Homo sapiens: one gene and its partners. The protein of the gene in region 1 purifies or fractionates together with the protein of each later gene. This does not show direct contact. Each region holds a gene or a part of one and is shown in the gene's direction. Other genes may lie near its edges. The genes, in order: SHANK2, GRB10 and CREB3L2.

What was found.
Region 2: the proteins of SHANK2 (region 1) and GRB10 purify together in Homo sapiens (affinity purification with western blotting, with the first as the bait; one study listed by BioGRID). This does not show direct contact.
Region 3: the proteins of SHANK2 (region 1) and CREB3L2 purify together in Homo sapiens (co-immunoprecipitation; one large-scale study listed by IntAct). This does not show direct contact.

Annotation. Positions count from the first base shown.
Region 1 is NC_000011.10:70,469,936-70,472,699, reverse strand, and holds part of SHANK2 (SH3 and multiple ankyrin repeat domains protein 2), read left to right. Parts: 3' UTR 1-2,764. UniProt on the Homo sapiens protein: Seems to be an adapter protein in the postsynaptic density (PSD) of excitatory synapses that interconnects receptors of the postsynaptic membrane including NMDA-type and metabotropic glutamate receptors, and the actin-based cytoskeleton.
Region 2 is NC_000007.14:50,667,808-50,671,459, reverse strand, and holds part of GRB10 (growth factor receptor-bound protein 10), read left to right. Parts: intron 1-1,596; coding exon 1,597-1,738; intron 1,739-3,652.
Region 3 is NC_000007.14:137,999,240-138,003,634, reverse strand, and holds the start of CREB3L2 (cyclic AMP-responsive element-binding protein 3-like protein 2), read left to right. Parts: upstream 1-1,548; 5' UTR 1,549-1,929; coding exon 1,930-2,031; intron 2,032-4,395. UniProt on the Homo sapiens protein: Transcription factor involved in unfolded protein response (UPR).

The DNA of each region.
Region 1 (2,764 bases):
AGACCCCTGGCTCACCATGTGGGTGTCTTGGGCAGTTTCTATCACACATGGGACAAGGGGAGGGAGTTTTTCTAACATGGAAAAAGATTCTCAGCCTGCCGCCCAGCATGCAGGTGGCCTCGCTTTGCCGGGTCCGAGAGGCTCCCCGTCAATTTTGCACGGGATCCTAGCTCTTGTAGGCAGACACCAGTGCACTCTAGATACCTCCTGAGACCTCCGTCCTCTGCTTTCCGGGCAGCTCTCACCACCCCAGGCCCCGGCATGAGGCCTTTCCTCAGTCCTGTGGCCTCTCAGAGGACACCTGATGCTCACCTGCCCCTCTTTCTCCTGCACTTGGCTTGCAGTGAGATGCTCCCAGATGCATTTGTCCAGTGCCCCATCATGGGCCTGAAAGGCAGAGAAACTTTTTCCTACACAGATTCTTTTCCCCATCTCCTCCTGTGGTTTGCATCCATGGCTCTTTGGCCATGAGGTTCCTGGCAGTGCTGGGAGTTTGGATGGGATCGTGCCCAGCTTTGCTTAGCTTTCTTTATTTCTGCAAATCTGTTAGCATAATTCCAAGGTGGCCAAGCAGATGTCACATGGAGTTAGTCAAAGCACAAAGTCACGATTCCACAATGGAGGGGAGACCTGGCCAAGGGAGCCAGCCAGCGTGCAACTGCCCAAGCTCCAGGTCTCCAGGACAAGAGCAGTTGTCTGCCATGAGCACCCATCCAGGATGGAGAATAAGGGCTTCTCTGCCTCTCAGAATTCTTTTTAATTGAAGATGTCTTGAGCTCTGCAAAGATCAGAGCAGGTGAGCATCCACTTTGACATGAAGGACAAGAAGACGCATGGCTCATGGCGGGCACATGCGGCTGCCAGTGAGACAGCGTCTCCTCTGGGAGCTGGGCGGGCACAGCATCCTCAGTTCTGTGCCCAGCCAAGGGTGAGCATCTCTGCTGAGACAGTCCTTTTGCTCTCGGAGGCCAGGGAAGATGGTACTTAGAGGCTTTTCCCCTATCGCTCTGGGTGTCTAGGAATCCCACCAGCTTGTCTTAACAGTACAACAGCTTCTTTGAGGACCCAGTGGGTATGGAGTATAGACAGAACCCAGGGTTGAGAACAGAAGGTGGGCGGCAGGATCAGAGTGAAAGCAGAGGCGTGAGGAGAGGAAAGCAGGGAGGTCTCCTGGGCTGCCAGGTCAGCCTCTCTGGCAAGGCTTTCTTGAGCCCCGCCCCTTTCTTTCCCCGGAGTCCCTCCACCCCATAACAATACCTCGAATTTCCAAAAGAGGTCACCAGATGCACATGGGCCGCAAAACACACAGTCAGGCTTCCAGCACATTCTCCCCCATTTGGAGGATACTCGAATGTCAGGTTTTTGGTTTTATTATTATTTCAGAACTAGCTCAGCCCATCTCTAATTATAAAACATGGTTTTGTTTTTTTTTTTTCCTTTTTTTCTTGATTAGGTCTGGAACAGCTCTAGAATGAACACATAAAATTTAGCAATTTAAAATCTTTCTTTACTGCAAGTTTAAATAGTTGTACAGATAGTTTATAAGCACAATATTTTAAGAAAAAAAAGTGGCTGGTCTACTAGGCAGCCTTTGTGCCACTTCAGTGCTAGAAAGTTAAAGAAAAAAAAACTTTTGTGATTTAATAATACTATTTCTGTGGAATAATTATAAAAGTATGACCTTTTTAAATCAACCTTATTTGGATGCATCTGAACCAGCAGAGCTGTGTTATATTTTCTATCTTTGCTAGAACTTCGTCATTGAAGGACAATTTCTTCAAAGTGGTTACAATTCATAATGCAGCAGTTTCTCCAAAAACAAAAACAAAACACACACCACACACACGCGCTTTTCCAGTCACACACCCCTGATGTTGGAACCAAGTTTTTGGACCTTCTGTTCCAAAACCTTTTGCAGGTCAATCTTTGTATTTGAAATGATCCAATCCAACTTGAAGTCAATTGAATATTAAGGCGCTTTACTTCCGTGTGCTTTCAGTTTTTCCATCATGAGATGAATGAGCATTACTCTAGATAAATTTCAAGACAGGATACTACAGGTGGCCTGCTGAGGCTGCCCCATATTTTAGAAAATGTAAAAATGGTGGTTTGGCCATTAATTTGTCTTCCATTTGATGATACCGCAAAATTCCGTGAGTCCATTCCTTTGGCATGGCACTTTCCCTGGGCCTACAGTTGGTATTACCTCTGTGCTCAGTGCCAGGCAAAACACTAGCTCAAAGGAGAGTCAAGGAAACCGCTGGCAGACGATAACCAGTCGAAACTCGTGACTTCGGTTTGTTGAACTTTGGCAGCCAGTTGGTGAGGGCCAGATGTTATTCCCTTTCTTAAAGATACTCCAAGCCACATGCCACTAACCACAAGCAAGCTGGCTGCAAGACTAAAGAGCTGATAACATAGTTTATTTTTACACTGTCTTATTATAGAGAAGTAATAGACCTATCAGAACCTGCACTGACCAACAAATAAACACATGTTGCCAAGATGAATCGGTCTCTATCTCTATCTGCTTATTTTGGTACTGAAAGCAATAGTTCCTCATTCAAATCACCACCCACTGTTCTCCCCCTTTGGGACATGTTAGGACGAGGCCCTATTCCATGCCCCTCTTTAATGGTGGAACAAATGTTAAACTGCTCATCTAAAGATCATGTTGATATTATTCCAGGTTTTAAGATCAACTTTTGTTACATACTGTAATTTAAATAAACTGCATTTACATGCCTAGTTTCTGTAATATTGT
Region 2 (3,652 bases), on another chromosome or scaffold:
GTCTACGTGGGATAGTTAGCTGGATCTTCCTTTAAAAAATAGGGAAAGTTGGTAAAAGAGAAAAAGTAATACAGTCACAAAATGTGTTTCTGTAGTGGCAAATCTCCTGGGAAAGCTAACGGATTGTTGATTTTGTGAAATCGTAAAAATTGTCAAAAAAATTACTTGAGGACACAGCCTATGATGGGGGTTTCTGAGGTATGTTTAAACATGGGGAGGGATTGGAAATGCCGAGTGAAGATAATGTGAGGTTTGCTCCCCTCTCCTTGAAGGTAGGAGGCTGCAGACAGGGCCGCGTGGCCTCAGGAAGGGTGGAGGAGGCTGTGTGTCCAGGAGTGCCCTGGAGGTGTGGGCCAGAAGTTACTCTACAGAGGGGAGGTGCCAGACACTTGACATTCGCTTTGACTTTGAACTTGATTTCTCTGCTGTTCACAGTTGCTTCTGATTCGTCATACTGTGTGTGTGTTGCATAGTTGTGTGACAAGTGGGTTGTGCATTTTTCGGAGGAGGGAACAGATGCCCCTGGAGATGTGCCAGGAAAGTAGAGGTGGTGTGTGGATTCAGCGTGTGTTTCCAAGGTGTGTTTCTAATGTGGACACAGGCTTTGCGAGGACAGATACATGAAGCTATAATTTCCAGTTAATTCAGTGTCAACAACCTTTTTATATAAGTAACCATCCATTGCATAATTCAGATGAGAACACACAGCCTTTTCTTGTATTTTCATTTGATTAGATTAATGCTCATTTCAAGGACATTGAAAAACACTTGGTTCTCATGAAAATGCTCATATTCAGAAAACTTTCACACATCAGGTATTCACTGATCAAACGGATGAGGTATTTGGAGCTGATGCCATGTCAGGCACTGAATGCTGCCTGAGATGAGCACGCACCCAGGACAACAAAACTTCGGCACCCCGCCCCCCGCCCCCGATGCCTAATGAAGAAGAGAATTGATACCCAATACCCTTTGGGTCTGAGAATGACAACTTGTAATTTTTTTAAAGTTTTCGTTTTAGTAAAATACATGTAACATAAAATTTACCATATTAACTGTTTTTTTCAGGGTACAGTTCGGTAGTATTAATGCACACTCACAATGGTTGTACAATCTCCAGAACTTTCTCATCTTATGAAACTGAAACTCTGTCCCCAATAAACAGCGATTCCCCATTGCCCTCCCCTTAGTCCCCTGGCAGCCACCCTTCTATTTTCTATGGGTTTGAATACACTACCTACCTCACTGGGTGAAATCACACAGTGTCTCTGGTTTTGTGACTGGTGTGTTTGACTCTGCATAATGTCTTCAGGGTTCATCCGTGTCGTAGCCTGTGTCAGAATGTGCTTCCTTTTTCATGGCTGAGTAGTGTTCCATGGTATGGATATGCCACATATTGTTCATCCATTCATCCATCTGCAGACCCTTGGGATGCCTCTACTTTTTGGCTTTTGTGAAGGATGCCACTGTGAACGTGGGCATGCCAGTGACTCCTAGAAGCCCTGTGTCCTGCTTTCTGGGTGTATCACCACAGTGGTAAGGCTGGGTCATGTGGGGAATGGCAGCTTTTAACAGGCACTTATCCCTGCCTTCCAGGCGCCTTCAGGAGGAAGACCAGCAGTTTAGAACCTCATCTCTGCCGGCCATCCCCAATCCTTTTCCTGAACTCTGTGGCCCTGGGAGCCCCCCTGTGCTCACGCCGGGTTCTTTACCTCCGAGCCAGGCCGCCGCAAAGCAGGTGAGTGTGCCCCTGGCTGGAGCCCAGGCTGAGGGATATGCCAGATTATTGGGATCTGCACAGATGTGCCAGATTATTACTTTGGGAAGAAGGGCGGGAAGTCCTGGGATCTTCTCTCTCAGTTCTTTTCTTGTTGTCACAGTACTTGTTGTCCTATGAGGCCGATACAGTTTGGATGTTGTCCCCTCCAAATCCCATGTGGAATTGTAATCCCCAATTTTGGAGGCAGGGCCTGGTGGGAGGTGATTGGATCTTAGGGGTAGATTCCTCATGGCTTGGTGCTGTCCTCACAATAGTAAGTTCTCACGAGATCTGGTTGTTTAAAAGTGCGTGTCATCTCCTCCCCTTGCTCCCACTCCTGCTGTGCGAGACGCCAGTTCCTGCTTTGCCTTCTGGCATGATTGTAAGCTCCTAAGTCCTCATCAGAAGCCGAGCACATGCCCGCACCATGATTCTTGTACAGGCTGCAGAACCATGAACCAATTAAACCTCTTTTCATTATTGATCAAAACTCTGTTTTATCTTTATATTTTAGAAAAAGTCTCATAAAAAATGGCAAATAATAACAATGATTTGATGTTTAAAGATGAATCTTAGTTCTTTGAAAAAGTTTCACCACTGGCTCAATAATAGGTGTGAAAATGCTGGGCTCACCCGGGCACCTGGATGTCAGTACACAGGAGTTGAAGAGTTTCTGTCTTGTAGTCCTGACTTTGAATATGATCTGCCGAAAGCAGAAGAGTTTCCATTGGACCCGCAGGGCAATAACCTCCTTTTTGAACTTGTAGTTTCTACTTAAAGTAGATCCATGAAGTAGATAGGACACAACCATTGTCCCCATATGAGGAAACTGAGGCACAGAGCATTTCAGTAATGTGTCCAAGGTCAAACAGCCAACAAGTCAGCTTAGCAGAGAAACTGGCAGAGAAAGGGGTTGAAAGTTCCTCCCCACCGGTTGGCAGGGCTGTGAGCCAGGATGGGCTGCAGCCTCTGGAGGAAGACCCCTAGGGGTGGAGGTGATCATTAGAACAACTGCGCCATCTGATGTTTATGGAGTGAGGGATTTCTGTGTGCCAGGCCTTGTCGTAAGTGGTGGATATGTTTATTTTTTGTTTATTTATATGTTCATTTACTCCTCATGCCATCCCGTATGAATTAAGTACGCATGTTCCCTCTGTTCCACAGTTGAGGGAAGGGAGGCCCCTGTAAGCAGCTGAGCTGAGTGTGGCTGAGACCTGATGGTGCGGCTGAGTGTGACCCGGCCTCAGAATCGGAGCCTGTGATTGCAGCCACTGTGCTGATTGGCTTCCCGGGACTTTGACTTTCCTTCTGCTAAATGCATATTTAGAAGTCATTTTGCCCTTCTACTTGAATCATCTCTTCTCCCTACTTGCTCTCACTTCCCTACCTTTGCTGTTCTCAAGCAAGACAGGCCAGCCATCCCTTTCTCTGCAAATCTGCCTGTCCTGTGCCATGCAAGGTCTGTCCTCTTGAGAGAGAGACCTTTTTCCAATACCCGCTGGCTCCCAAGTGTGGGTCCCGTTCTGACCTCAGGCCCCCGGAGCAGGCTGCATTATGGCACTATCAAAACTTAGAAGGTGAGGTAAGTGTCCCTCATCTGGGAGCCAGCACTGGCTGGGCTTGTGCACTTTGTCACATGTCTAAAGTGCATCTGGGATGTCTACCTCGCTGGTGACCTTCTGCTTCAAATAAGGATCCAGACAAGCTGTCTGTGGGTTTTGTCACTGAGGTTGTTTACAGAGCTACCCATTCTAAAATAAGACCATGAAAATATTATCTGGCTCTCTCAGCCTTTGGCAAGAAAATTGGCCTCCACCCCCAGGGATTGTCCAAATTTGTAAGCAGAACAAGGAAACCGGGGAATTTTGCCTGCTGGTGTTTTTCTTGGGATCA
Region 3 (4,395 bases), on another chromosome or scaffold:
AGCCCAGGAGTTTGAGGCCAGCCCAGGCAACAAAGTGAGATCTTGCCTCTACAAAAAATTTAAAAATTAGCCGGGTGTGGTGGTGCACATCTGTGGTCCAAGCTACACAGGAGGCTGAGGCAGGAGAACTGTTTGAGCCCAGGAGGTGGAGGCTGCAGTGAACTGAGATCGTGCCACTGCACTCTAGCCTGGGTAACTGAGTGAGACTGTCTCAAAAAAAAAAAAAAAAAAAAAAAAATCTCAAAAGACCCCAGAAGATAGGACCAGACAAATGCAATAGTTTATATGATAAACTGCTGCTTTAAAGACAACATAGAGTTCAAAGACATTTGTCTCCACCCGCCAAAAAATACTTGCCAAGGAAACAACACAATAGCTAATACCTGAATGTGCCATTGTAAGAAACTTCTAGAGCTAACTGGCAAAGACCTGCTTTTATATTTAAGATAGGTAAACTATATTTTTGGAATTAAAAAGGAGGAAGAAGAATCACAGTGTTCGGGGGAATTCCTTTAGAACAGGCCATCTCTTCCCTATTCTAGGAGGCAGGCCTGGTGCTCTGGCCCTGGCTCACCTTTCTGGCCTTTCCCACCCCTCCCTGCCAAGCACCTCTGCTGCAGCCACACTGGCCTCCCCAGCAATCACGTGAATACCAGCTTCCCCCGAAATCTCATTTCCTTTAGGAAGAACTTCCCTGATCAGCACGTAAAATAGCATCGATCTTGACGCATCCTGTTTTCCTGCTTTTATTTTTCTTTATAGCAATTTCCACTTTCTGAATTTAAATGTTTATTTCTTTGTTTATTGCCTGACTCCTCTGAGATAAAAGCTCTATGAATTCAAGGACTGGGCTCACTTCTGTAGGACCTGGAAAAGCATGCCATTGACTCTTATCAAGCAGATGAAAGAAAAACATACAATAAGTGAAGTCCATAAAAAATAGAAGAACCCAACAGAAAATGGGCGAAAAAGGTGAAGAACAATGACAATTTCCTAGAGCTGCACTAATATAAATGTATGTGCATGAGGAATATTTGTATTTTTGTATAATATGTAATCCATTAAAAAAATTCCGAGAGATTCAAATGAACTAAAGTACTCGAAAATGTTTAAGCCCCCCGCGCAACAACTCTCGCGCCCCCTGTCGGCGCGCTGGTAAATTTCTGAGGATTCTCAGCAAGAGGACTGAACTCACCCTCCCTCTTTTACAAAATGTATTCTTGTCGCTATTTCATTGGCTGTACCTTTCAGACGCCCCTTTCACATTAGTCAAGCCTCCAGTCCATCACTTCCGGACCCAAGCCCTCTATTGGTCAGCTGTAGGCGACAGCAGACAGCGGGCCGCGCTCAAGCAGGAGGAGTTCCTCGGTGACGTCACAGACACTCCCCGGCTACATTCCAAGGCGTGGGCGGAGACTTCCCGCGGCCTCTGCCTTTGGGGGCGGGACAAAGCCGAGAATGAGACTTCTGATTGGGTCTGCTAGGCAAGGCGGATATCCAATTGGTCAAGCCTTGGAGGGAGGTGGGGCCGCAGCTGGGTCCTGGAGCAGAGCCGAGGAGCCCTGGGGTCCCTCAAAGTTTGTGTCTGGAGCCGTAGCGGCAAGTGGGCTTGCGGCTAAGGGATTTTCCTGGGATGAGAGCGGGTCTTCTGCCTTCATTTTGGATGCACATCCCGCTTTAGCCCCGGCAGCCTTTGGTCCGGCTCGTGTCCCTGGGGATTCTCGGATCTCCGAGGACACCGGACGGGAGCGCTTGGCCATCCTCTCTCCGGCAGAGGAGCAGACGTTTGCTTTCCAAGTGCAAAACTACAGACACGCGCGCGCACACACGCAAGCACACGCGGAGAGAGAGGAACCTTGCCGGTCCGAGGCAGCTCTGCGCGTCCCCTCCTGCGCTTAGCATCCTCGGCCCAGCGCGGCCCGCACCGCCATGGAGGTGCTGGAGAGCGGGGAGCAGGGCGTGCTGCAGTGGGACCGCAAGCTGAGCGAGCTGTCAGAGCCCGGGGACGGCGAGGCCCTCATGTACCACACGGTGAGGACCCGGCGGGCGGGGCAGGAGGGCTTTCAAAGCGGGCAAGTGTTGTCACGCGAGGAGCAGCTGGAGTCCTGGGACCCGGGAAGGCAGGGTTTGGGGCAGGGCATGGTCAGAATCAAGAGGTCCTGGGCGAGGTGTACTTTAATGTCTGAGCAGATGAAGGCGGGCAGCTGGCCCCTTTACATTTCTCATGAGAGTAATGCCACTTTGTATTCCTTTAACAATTCATGCTTTTTTCCCTGAGGCTTTTTCCATCTGTAATATCATTTGCTGTTGTTAACAGTACTGTAATGCGGGAGAGGGAGTGTGTGTTTTGAGAATAACATGCCTCCGCCTAGTTTGCTATTGATTTTTTTTTGAGGTTTTCAAAAACTGGACAAGATTAAGTAGCATTTCCTTTTCATCTGTCTCGTATTCTCTCTCCCTCTCTCCCTCCCTTCCTCTTCTTTCATATTTATATTTTAAAAAGTACACGTGTGTGTGTGTGTGTGTGTGTGTGTGTGTGTGTGTGTGTGTGTTGAAAGGGCTCCTCTACGTTAGGGAGAAAGGCGGCTTTATTTGCTTTCTTAAACTGTACGACCAAGAAGTCTCCTTCCTCCCTCTTCGGAGGAAAAACCAGCAGAGGAGTATGGAAAATCTGAGACAGTTGCATATTTAAGAAAGGCTCTGGGGAAGGTGGGACAGCTCACCAGTTGCTTGTTCAGTCTTATACTAATGCCTCAGAGATCTCTTGGGGGATTAAGCTGTCCCAGAGCACGCACATTTCTTTTAAAGTTTTTAATGTCAAGTTTTTGGTATTAAGTTTGCAAAATGAAATTTTGTTTTCAATAGCCAGCACTGATCATAGGACTTTATGCAAGATCTCTTTGTTTGATTCTTATCCATGCAGACGTTTGTAATGGGGGTGGGGCTGGGGTGAGGGGGGACACTAATGAGAAAACCACTGGAGGCTTGGCTGCTTCCCCTTCACGCTTTTTTAATGGGGTCAGTACCAAGATATTTGAAACTTTCGCAAAATGGCCTGCAGGCTCCACCTCTTTGGCCTTTGACTCTGGCTGACGTTATTTTGAGACAAGGAATGAGGGCCTCCCTGCTGATTCCCACCGAAGTATTTGTGGTGGCTGAGAGTGGCTTGTTTAAAAAAAATGCAGAGTGCAGGGCTGAGAGGGAGTGGTAGTTCATGCTGGGGCAAAAGCCAGATGTTCAGTGTGATCTTCTGGGCTTTGCTTGCTGAGCTTGTCATGGGGACACTATGTGGGCAGCACGGAGGTTGGGGTACCAGATGTGCTTCCTGTCCTCAGTAAAGAACTTGGAGTATGTTGTTCCTCAAATATCTTTTGATGAATGGGTGCTCCAGGAGTTTCTACTGACAGGCTACATTTTATCCATATGCAGAGGGGCAGCCCTTCTCTTTTGTTCTTGAAGTATTCTTTCGCTGTGACAGTGTCTCATCCAGCAGCTGCAATGCCACAGCTAGGGGGTTGTCTTTCAGCTGGTGGGATGAATTACGCACAGGCATCTACCTTGCTGTTCTTTGGCCCTGTAGCTTGCATTTGTGAGTTCACAGGGAAAGGTGCGAGATGCTACCCGTGACTGTGGCATTCACTCTGGGAAGAACTGCTTGGACTGGCTCTAACTAACACCTTATGCACACTTTCAGGGAGTAGAGGCCTTACATTTGCTTTGATATTAACAGCCCAGTTTTTCTGTCATTGTGATAAAGCAGGAATGTGTGATTATTTTTCTTTTATTTCTATTTTTAAAAAATGCTTATTATGTCCTCCACTTAGGTACATGTCTGTTGTGAACAGCTCATTCCTGTAAAATGCTGCTCATCATTGCTGCAAGTCAGTGCAACAAACTGTGCATATGAATTACTGTTGAAAGAGGTATTGGTTTAGCAGCACAAATGATTGGGTTATATTTCTCTCAAACTAAGGGACGTTTGGGAGAGGTGGGGAGATAATTTTCCCATCTGTTTCCTGAACTCTGTTAGATATCCAGGGGCAGAGCTGTTTGTTACTCTAGCTGAATCTTTATGTAGAAAAAGGATGGCCTGATTATTCATTCAGTCAGAGAGATATTTGTTCTTTCGATTAATATTTGTGGAATATATAAAGCACTTGGAAACATGAGTGAACAGAAGCAGACAAAATCCCTGACTTCTAGAAGCTTATATTCGTGTGTGTGTGTGTGTGTGTGTGTGTGTGTGTGTGTGTGTAGGGGAACATAAACAATAAACATTATAAAGAAGTGATTATGTTGGATGAAATAAGTGTTATGGAAAACGTATAAGTAGAACAAGGTGAGGGGGATAGAGAATACAAGGTGGAAGAAGAGCAAACTATGGGATTGAACTGA